2 separate regions of the Homo sapiens genome follow, and region 2 is linked to region 1. Evidence: fine-mapped expression QTL. Tissue or cell type: testis. Region 1 holds a variant in brackets; the other region holds the start of a gene. All regions are shown on one strand. Distances are from middle to middle. Region 1 overlaps ARHGEF38 (Rho guanine nucleotide exchange factor 38). Region 2 holds the start of ARHGEF38-IT1 (ARHGEF38 intronic transcript 1).

Evidence for each region. PIP is the estimated chance that this variant, and not a neighbour inherited with it, causes the effect. A credible set is the group of variants that fine-mapping cannot tell apart.
Region 2: ARHGEF38-IT1 starts here. The variant in region 1 is the best candidate, but not a certain one, in a credible set for the expression of ARHGEF38-IT1 in testis (GTEx, PIP 0.57).

The regions. Positions count from the first base shown.
Region 1 is chr4:105,581,376-105,586,768 of GRCh38, forward strand. All of the region lies in intron 1 of ARHGEF38 (Rho guanine nucleotide exchange factor 38), which reads left to right. Among named protein-coding and RNA genes, the nearest start is that of ARHGEF38-IT1, 22 kb to the left of the region's middle. The variant A/T (reference allele first, on the strand shown) is at 3,120.
Region 2 is chr4:105,559,193-105,564,585 of GRCh38, forward strand. ARHGEF38-IT1 (ARHGEF38 intronic transcript 1) reads left to right here and starts at 2,399. Exons shown (of 3, transcript NR_046840.1): 1 at 2,399-2,455; 2 at 4,110-4,173. All of the region lies in intron 1 of ARHGEF38 (Rho guanine nucleotide exchange factor 38), which reads left to right.

The DNA.
Region 1 (5,393 bases):
TTCCTTACATTCTCTATTATACCCTCTAGACCTCCTAGTAAACATTAGTTGAACCTTCTTATTCAATCCTCAACATCTCCTAACCTCTCTCACATATTTTACATGTCTATTGCATTCTATAAAATTTTCTTGGCTTGTTCATTAATCTCTTTAACTTTGTATAATTTACTATTTAGTTCATTATACAACTCAACTATTTATTCAACTTAGCCATTTATTGATTAAACAAAATAATTAAATTTTAATTATTATGAGCTTTTATTTTAAGATTCTGTATTATCTTTTAAAATCCACTTGATCATTTTTATATTCTCTTGTTTCTTGCTTATAATTTCAAACCATTACTTGTTTTTTAAACCTATTAAGTACCCTTTTTATATCTCTAATAATTTCAGTAACTTAAGACTTTGTGGATATAATTATGCTATCAATTTTATTTTCTGCATCTGACTCATGGTATCGTGTTTCCGTGTGTGTTTTAGGATTTCTTAAAATCTCGTATTCCTATGGCCGGGTGTGGTGGCTCACGCTTGTAATCCCAGCACTTTGGGAGGCCGAGGTGGGTGGATCACGAGGTCAGGAGCTCGAGACCAGCCTGGCCAACCCAGTGAAACCCCGTCTCTACTAAAAATACAAAAAATTGGCTGGGTGTGGTGGCGGGCGCCTGTAATCCCAGCTACTCAGGAGGCTGAGGCAGGAGAATCACTTGAACCAAGGAGGTGGAGGTTACAGTGAGCCAAAATCATGCCACTGCACTCCAGCCTGGGCGACAGAGCTAGACTCCGTCTCAAAAAAAAAAAAAAAAATCTCGTATTCCTTGCAATGTAGCTGCAAGGAACAGTTGAAGCCTGACTTGAGTTTCTATTCAATTTCATTAAGCTTTGTTCTTAATTTCCTTTATTCTATTTTCTTTTGGCTTATTGTATTTTTTTTTTTTTACTTATTTAGTTAAGAGTCAAATCATTTTCACTCTTGCTTCTTTTCTTGTATATGAATTTAAGCCTATAAATTTTCTGTAAGCAGTGCTTTACCTACATTCCACATGTTTTAATTTGTAATATTTTTCTTATCCTTATAACAGATATCTTCTATTCACTTTAGTCATTTCTTCTGTGACCCATCAGTTATTTTGTAGGTTTTGGTTCTCTATTAATTCCAAAACAAATGAGTCCTAACATTTTATTTTTGTTATTTATTTCTACATTAATTTCATGGTAGTTGTGGTTCTCAATTTACTAATTCTTTGAAATGTTATAACTTAATTTATAATGTATTTCTTCAAGTGTCCTTAAAAATACTATGTAATCTCTAATTATTGGAGTAAATATTTTCTGTCCTAACAGTCTATCAGTTACTGACAGTTATGTTTAAAATATCACTATTAAGACTGATTTGTCAAATTCTACCTTCAACTCTTTCACTTTTTGCTTCACATGTTTTGAAATCATGTTATTTAGTACATACAGAATTAGAATTTTCATATCTTCCTAATGAATGGGACACTTTATCACTATATAGTGCCCACTTTTATTTTTGCCTTAAAGTCTATTTTATCTGTGTAAAATAGCTATATCTCACCCTTCCTTTAATTAGTATTTGCTCAGTATATATTTTTGTACTTTCATCTTCTTGTGTGCTTATGTTCTCTACTATAAATGGCATATAGTTGTTGTTTTTTGAATACAGTTTGATAATATGGTCACTTGAGTTATGATTACACATAGATTTGAATCGACTGCCTTATATTTGTTTTTCTCTTTCGGTTTTCTCCTTTCTTCATTTGAACTGCTTTCTCTCCTCTACTGGTTTTGAAATTTTACATGCTATTTTATTTTAATGGTTGGCCTTGAAATTTTAACATATATCCTTAATTTAAAAACATCTAAAGTTCATTAATGTCTTTAGCTTTTCTGCAATATCACAAAAATGTTTAAATGTTTAAAATACTTAGAAGTCTCCACAATCTCTCCCAAGCTGTCCTGTCCACCAAATCTCTTATCCTCTCCCCAGCGTCCTCCTACCTGGCCACACATTGCTCTGCTTCCTGTTCCTTAAATAGGCCATGCACACGCTCACCTTAAGGTTTTCCACTGACCAGTTCATCTGCTAAAAACCACCTCTCCCAGATATCTGCATGACTCTCTCACCTTTCAACTCTATTTCAGGCCTTTCCTGCCATCTTATTTAAAATTGCACACGTTTTAAGCTCTTCCTAGCAGCTTTCATAGCATTATTTTTCTCTATATCACTTATCACCTTTTAGTATACTAAATAACTTGTTTAAATTATTTATGTTCTTCTTCCCCAACTAGAAGTAAAGTTCCATAAGGAAAGGAATTTTTTTTTTATTGCTGTATCCCCAGAGCCTAAGATGATTTTGGGCTCATAGTAAGCCCTTACTATTTATTTGTTAAGCATTCAATAATTTCAGATCTCAAATCCATATGAGAGCCAGTTAGTGTCCTTGAATTGTTAAGGGATGCTATTTTTTTTTCTATTGATCACCACCAAGGCTGAGACAAATCATTTTATTGATGTCTCTTTCTTTGGAGCATTATTTTTACTTAGTGTGTTTCCTTTTCTGATCCTTTATCTGGATATGTTTCCTGAGTATGTTCCCTTTTCCCACTCTTGATTTAAAAATTGCCCAATAAATAAATATTTTTATCTATTTATGGTTCAGTTCATGAAAAACAAATAGGAGAATAGATACTGTGCAGACAACAGCAGTGTCTGACACAATTATGCTGTTGTTACAAAAAAGATCCCCACTATATACTGTTATAGTTGCAAAAGCAAGTTGCAGAAGAATATGTATATGAGCTTGTTACTGTTAAAAAATAAAACAAAAAACTGAACTTCTGTAAATATGTGTATTTGTATGTGCATGGAGATATTTTGAGAAGCCTATACACTACACTAGAATACAACCAATAATACAGTAAAAATAATATTACAATTAATAAATAGGGATTGCATCTAATAATAATAAAACATTTTCAAGATATCCAGTATAATGCCAGGCACTGTTACAAGTGTTTTACAGACATTAACTAATTTAATCTTCGAAATCACTTTATAAGGCTTTACTAACGTTATCCTTAACTTACAGATGAGAA[A/T]ATTGATACAGGAAGAGCTAAGTAACTTGTCTGAGGTAATAGATCTAATAAATGGTAGTGGTGGAGTTTGAACCCAGGCAGTCTGGCTCCCAAGGCTATGCACTTAAACCTCTACTATATCTACATCTCTCTCTCTATCTGTATCTATGTCTATCTATCTATAGCTATAGCTATTTCTATGTCTATCTATATATAACTTAGATAGATATTACAATTACATATTATTTTATAATTTACAAAGAAAGAAAGAAAGAAATTACCTCTCCTTAAATCCACCCCAAAATGGCAGTAGTAGTAGCAAAAGCAAGAAGAAAGGAAAAACAGGATAGGATAAATTCTAAGCAAAACGTGGCTATCAGTGAAGATTGTCTTCAGTCCTCCCCCAACACCCCTTTGCCTTTGGGTGCTGTTGCACTTCTCTAAGAGATCGAGGTTCTCCCCACGCATATACCCAAGCCAGATAAACTGCTCAGGATTCTAAACCCCAGCTTTGTTCTGACTTTCCTCCGAAAGCAGCATCCCTATTTTTTTTCCTCTTCCTCTTCCAACTGAACTAGCTGTCCACCCACTTTAGAGTCATGCATTTTTCTTGACAAGTTGGTAACCACAAAATAATGGGATAATTGTTTGCTCTAGATGGTGGAAGAGTTTGAGACTGTAGAGAAAGTAACCCTATTTTTCCCATTCCCACAGAAATAGTTAACATTTGTATTGTTTTAAAGATCTCAAGGAGCTTCCACATGGAGCTGCTCATTTAATTCAGTCTTCATGATCACACTGTGATGGTTTTCATGCATAGTTTACAGGTAAGGAAACCAAGGCTCTGTGAGGATAACTATTAGTTATTAGTCTACTGTGTTCTCACAGCTGAGTGGCAGAGCTGATCTCAAGTCAGATTATCCTTTTCCCAAACTGCAACAACCTCTTTTTATATAAACTTCCTTGGCCAGGAATCTCCACATATATTATTAATGAATTTTGTGGCTAGAATAGTAAAAATTCACATCACCACTGGAAAAATAAAGCTTGAGTGTGAAAGAAATACAGAGTGAAGTCAATTACATGGTACTGCTTTAATATACAGCTGCATATTTCTGTTATAGCAATCTGAATATCCTTTTAACCTTAGTTTCACTTTGGCTTTGACATTGTATTTTATTATATGCAAACTATTGGGAAACATTTATTCTTAAAACAATTTTTCCTTCTTTCCTAAATAGCCCCTCCGTTGCTTTTTTTTTTTTTTTTTTTTTTTGAGATGGAGTCTCCTTCTGTCACCCAGGCTGAAGTGCAATGGCACTATCTCGGCTCACTGCAATCTCCGCCTGGTGGGTTCAAGTGATTCTCCTGCCTTAGCCTCCCAAGTAGCTGGGATTACAGGCATGTGCCACCACACCCGGCTAATGTTGTATTTTTAGTAGAGATGGCGTTTCTCCATGTTGGTCAGGCCGGTATGAAACTCCTAACCTCAGGTGATCCACCCACCTCGGCCTCCCAAAGTGTTGGGATTACAGGCATGAGCCACTGCGCCAGGCCCCCTCGGTTGCTTCATCCAGAAATAAAAGACGGGCTATAGCTGACTGCTGATTTGGGCGATATGTGTTGGCAATATTGTTGAGTTCCAAATACTTTTATATATAAAAGCTAAGTATAACTAAAAGATAAAATGTTTAAATGCAGAGAAAGATCTTACAAAAACAAAATGTGTCCACAATGCATTGCAGAGTTTGTTGGTTTAAGAAATGCAAACATAGAAAGTGTTTAGAAACCTGACCATAAAATGATGCAAGTGAAGTTTTTGTTCCTACAATAAACTTGAGTCAAAAGAGCAAACAAAGATATCTCATAAGGTTGCTCAACTGTAAATTCTCTGAGAGATTTTTACACCTGAGGGAGAAGTTGAGTATTTTCACTGACACTTTATTTCACCCACCTTGCCCCCACAAATTTGTTCTCAACAAGTTGTTGAGCAGTATTGGAAAACCTAAGCATTTTTTAATTGACAAAATCTGATGTAGTACATTTTAAAGTGCAGCAACTGAAACGTCTGTGAAGCAGGTTAAGTTAACATTGTGATTGAGTCCTGGAATTTAGAACTAAAAGGAACCCAAATGCATGTTTTAGGGATATTCCTTTGTCGACGATCAGGAAAAACTTCCTTCTCCTTGCTAGGATCCCAAATAATTCATAGATTAATTTTATAAGGCATAGAAGGTTTAGAACCTGGAAAAGCAATGTCAGAGCAGTTTTTCATCAGCATCATTTTTATTTTCA
Region 2 (5,393 bases), 22 kb before region 1:
GAACCAGTCAAGACTCAAAGTTATGGCTTATTTGGGAGTCCTACCTTCACTTCTAGACTGTTTCTGAGACTGTGGAATTTTCTGTTCAACAGGCCTCAGTACTGGCTCCAACATTTGCTTGGACCGCTTCTTATCCCATGCTCTCAAGGGCAGACTGTGGTTGCTGGTGTGCATGCTCTTAGGCCTAAGGCACAATTGATGATGGGGGTGTTTCTGGAGCTTGATCATGCTGGAGTGTTCAGATCATGTCTACCAGGTTCCTCTGGGTGGGAAAGCTGGTAGAGAGAAGAGTAGGGATTCAAGCCTCAAGATTAGGTAGGAGTGCGTGTGTCCCATGGTCCCCTGCCAAATTTTGGCATAAAACTCTGAGGGATATGAGAAATCTAAATTAGAAGTTGGCCTTTCAGATTGTTATAAAATATATTTATCAAGACAGAAGGAAATATCACATTTTATTTAATAGTTTGCCAGCTTCATTTATAACTTTTAAATATGTAGATCTGGTATGCTGGCCTCCATCTGTATCCTTGCTCCAGGTCCCACAAAGGAGGCAGCTATGTGTGGTTTTTGACTGTAATCTATTTCAGGATATAACCCTTCTTCTATACTAGGTTGTGAAAGTAAGAGGGAAGGGGAGGGAAGGAAGAGATTGAGTATTAGTGTTATGTTATCTGCTAGGAGCTATGCTAGCCAGATGCTGTCACACACACTGTTACTGAATCCCAACTTCTCTTCTGTTCAGTTCTGATTTTATCATTGAGAAAAATAGGTGGTAGGCCTTGGGTTTGAGATGTCACATGCTTGAAATATTTGCAAAATGGAATGAATTTAACTAGTTGACTCAGTAGGTATTTTATACATATGATTTACTAAGAAGTCAAAGCCATTTGATGGTTGCAGCACATGTTTTGTAATGTGATGACATTTCTCTGCTACCATAATAAAGCTTAACTTGCTGTTTTTCACTTTGGAATATATTTTCTTTCTTTTGACTTATAGTGGCATGTCCCTGCCAGACTGTCACTGTTTAATAAATACTTTTTTTGTTTAGTTGTCGGGGAACAAAATTACAAAGGTAGGTTAAGCAAAACTGTCTTATAGTAATAGCTTAATGATCTCCATTTCCTGCTTCATTGCGTATCTTGACACTGAAACTCATCTTTCTTTAATTTTATGCCTGTTGTCATTTATTTGCATCTCAATAAAACTTAATATATATCAGAATAACTGAGAGTCCTATTCTACAGCAATGAGAGGAGGGAATACATTTGCAAATGAAAAGAATGGAATTATGTGTGGGAAACAAGCAACTTTTTATCTGGATAGGTGATATTTCAGTAGAATTGTATGAAGTCAGCTTAAATTGTGAGTCATAACTTAAATGCAGCAGGAACACAGAGTGCTATGATTTAAGACTTTGTCCAAGGTTTTCTGAACAATGTTTTTCTTGATTAATGAATCAGAGAATAAATGAATAGTCTAAGATACCTGCACTGAAGCCCTCGATAGAGGATGCAATCTTAGACTGACATACAATTCTTACTTAAAGAAGAAAACTTAAAGGTCATGTCATCTAGCTACTACTCTAAGTATTGTGAGTCATTATAGCACTTCACAGAAACTGTTTTTCCTGAATGCTTCTTAATGTTAGGTCTCCAGTGTCACTACAAAAAGCCATCACAGATTTCTCCTTCTGTGTTTGTTGTGAAATGGTTGATGAAGACATTGTTTACCTCTCTCAGATTTTATTCAATGGAAAGCTGACTCTCCTTAAGAATAAAAACACATCCCCTCCCAGATAAAAACAAGCAATTTACTATATTTAGCTGCTAGGAGCTTAGGGTCAAATTTGTTTTTGTTCCCTGGCCTTTATATTAACTATTTTGTCTGTCTAAAAGTTTCTTTCCCATAGAGGCAGGGTGTGGTGGCTCATGCCTGTAATCCCAGCACTTTGGGTGGCCAAGGTGGGTCTATCGCTTGAGCCCAGGAGTTTGAGACCAGTCTGTGCAACATGGTGAGACCCTGTCTCTACTAAGAAAACAAAACAAAACAAAACAAAAAATTAGCTGGTTGGTGGTGCATGCCTGTAATCCCAGCTACTTGGGAGGCTGAGGCACAAGAATCACTCAAACCTGGGAGGCAGAAGTTACAGTAAGCTGAGATCATGCCACTGCACTCCAGCCTGGAGTCTCAAAAATAGAGTAGAATAATAGAATAGAATAGAATAGAATGGAATAGAATAGAATAGAATAGAATGGAATAGAATAGAATAGAATAGAATAGAATAGAATAGAATAGAATAGAATAGAATAGAATAGAATAGAATAGAATAGAATAGAATAGAATAGAAAAGTTTCTTTCCCCAGATCTCTGCAAGAGCAGATTTTTATCACTGAAGTCTCTGTTCGTCTTTTTTGGGAGTCCCTCCCTGACCATCCGACCTAAAGTGATGTAGGTAAGGGAATACCTTTCCTCTACCCTCTTAAATTCTGTGACTAGGACCTGTGAATTGTATAGACAAAAGACATACTAACAAAAGAAAAAGCATACACATTTTACTTGAGGTTAACATTTTTATGTGTCGTAGGAGGCTTTGTAGGAAGAAAGAAGTAAAAACCTCAAAGAAGCAGTTAGACCTAGGGGTTTACATAACATTTTAACAAAGGTCATAAATTGTGGAGATATGACAAAGCCAAAGTAAAAGAGTTTAGGGTTGGGGAAAGAAATTGTGGAAAAGTGACTAGGAAATACATGGGAGAAGCTAATGGAAGATAAGGGTTATTTTTGTAAGATTTGTTTGTGTAGATTCATCTCTGTGTCAACTCCCTGTCTCTGATGATGAGAATATTCCCTTCTTGGTGATACAGGGAGGGCACTTTTCTCATGGTAAATTTACACTCTGCTTTTAAGTAAAAAAGGAAAAGGCAGAGAGCCCTTCCTGCATCTGCTATTGAGCATCTCCAGCTCAAAATAATCAGTATCCCAAAGTGGCATATTTAGGGATGGTGTGTTCTGATCCCCCTCAGTGGCTTTCATACCATCTATTACTCTATGAAATTATACTACTTCATTCTATTTTTGGCTTTTGCTGTCATTTGAATATAATTCTCCTTGGGGAAAAAGACTTAGCATTTAAGCAATGCCTGGTATACAGTTATTCTGCTCAATGACTATTTATTGAATGACTTTAAAATATCCAGTGAATAATTACAACTATATTGATCCTTATGACATACTTGCTTTTACAATTCTGTCATTTTCACTTACCCACTATGTAATGGTAGTTAACTTTCAGTTAATTTCTTTACATTCTTTTTCTGTAAAGAAAGATTATAAATAAATAAATTTAATTAAAGAAGAGACTAGAAAGAGTTTCCTGGCCAAGAAAAATAGGATCTCTTTTTAAATGAATTTATTCAACAAATATTTGCTAGGTATTCGTATGTGCCAGGTATGACTAGGTCCTAAGAATGTTTTTTAAAATATCAGAAGCACACCCAGCCCACTGAGTGAGACAGGTTGTGAACAAATTATTGCAGTAATGTAACAAGGGCCTGAAGTATACTGCAAATTGGGTTTCCGACTTGCAAATTCTGAAATAGAGATTCGGGTGGAGGGGAATTATTAGGCAACATTCTGTGACCACCACCTGGGGAAGAAAAGGGAAGGACATAAGCCTGGGCACAGGGAGAGGCCGAGCTGTGATGTGGTCTCATTGGAAGCTTTAGCCAACTCTGAGGGAAGTTCTGAAGACAGATGATTTTTTGGAGTTGTCTCCAGTGTTGTGAAGGACCTGGGCCCTTGTATCACACTTTACGTTTGGGGATGTGGCTATCTTGGGAAAAGGCATGGCCTGAGAGGTGCTTTCATCTGAGATAATTCCTAAAGAGGGCATATCTGCTGGTTGCACTCCCGGCAGCTGAAATAATAATTTATCCCTTCCTTTAAGGGGAACGGGTGCTAACATGGCATCCACCACATATTAAGTGGTTATTATTATTAGAGACACAAATAAAGCAATATAGGAGCTATGATAAGAAAGAGCTTAATTGCACCTCTGAAATGCCAAAAGAAAATACACTGAAATCTGAATCTTGAAATCCAATTAGGACTTTTAGGGGCAGAAGCCATTCCAGGCAGAGGGATTATGCTGGTCCTCATACATGGAACAAGGTAATAATACTAATTTTTGTATTTGGGGATTTCTAAATGGAAGAGCAGGTACAAACACCAACTGAACATCTGTAGTAGGCACTTAGGTGCAGTACGTCATTTCATGCTCTTAGCAACTTTGCAAATAAGTTATTGCCATATATTTATAGATGATAAAACAGAGGTTAAGAGAGGTATAAGCATTCTCCCAGTGGTCACATAGCTATTAATAGCAACTGGTGAAGTCAGAGTTTTCCTGAGGTTTGCTTGGCTCCAAAGTCAGGGCTTTTTCAACCATCATGCAGTTTTCCTGTTCTAACCTTAGTTTTTAGTAGTAGTACCTGTTTTATGGTTTGCTCTTAAGAAATCAACTGATTTTAATAAACTTTTGAACAATACTCACAAGCATCAAGAGAACTGTAAGTTCTGCCAATACATTCATCGGCAATCTTGAAGTGAACAGTGACCAACAAGTATTTTTCAGTAGCTGTGTTATTTTATGCCTCTCAACAAAATGTTCTATGTGCTTGGAAATTAGAAAGATATGTACTTGCATTGAATAAGGTCCATACTTCACAGAAACACTAGAATATTCTGCTCTAAAAATACAAAACTGATTATCTGAATTATCTAGTCTTTGAAAACTCCTTGTCATCACTAACTACAGAGTACTTACCTGGATTAGGGTACTCAGTGAAAAACTGGGTCAGAATGTCAAACTACATGGCTCCTTTGCTTAACACTCCTCATTGCTTTTCATTTTTCTATAGCTAGCAGCAGTACCCAAAGAGGGGAATATATAAACCCCAGGAGATTTTACAGACAATCTATTGTGCAAAGAAAAAAATAGGTTTGTTTTTCAGTATTGCTCTTTGAAAATATTTATTGTTGTGCATGCTTCATAATATGTATGATACATTAATATGATACGTATATTAGAGGTGTATACACAGAACAGTTTAACTGACACAATAAAAACATTTGCAGTAAAATTCTGACACGCTACTACATGGATGATCATCAAAGATATTGTGCTAACTAAAATAAGCTAGTCACAAAAGGACAAACGCTATATGATTCTACTTATATGAGAGTAGTCAAATTCATAGGGACAAAAAGTAGAATGGTGGTTTCCAGGGGCTGGGGGAAGGAGGAAATGGGGAATTATTGTTTAATGGGTAGAGTTTCAATTTGGGAAGATGAAAAAGTTGTAATGATTGCATAATAATGTGAATGTATTT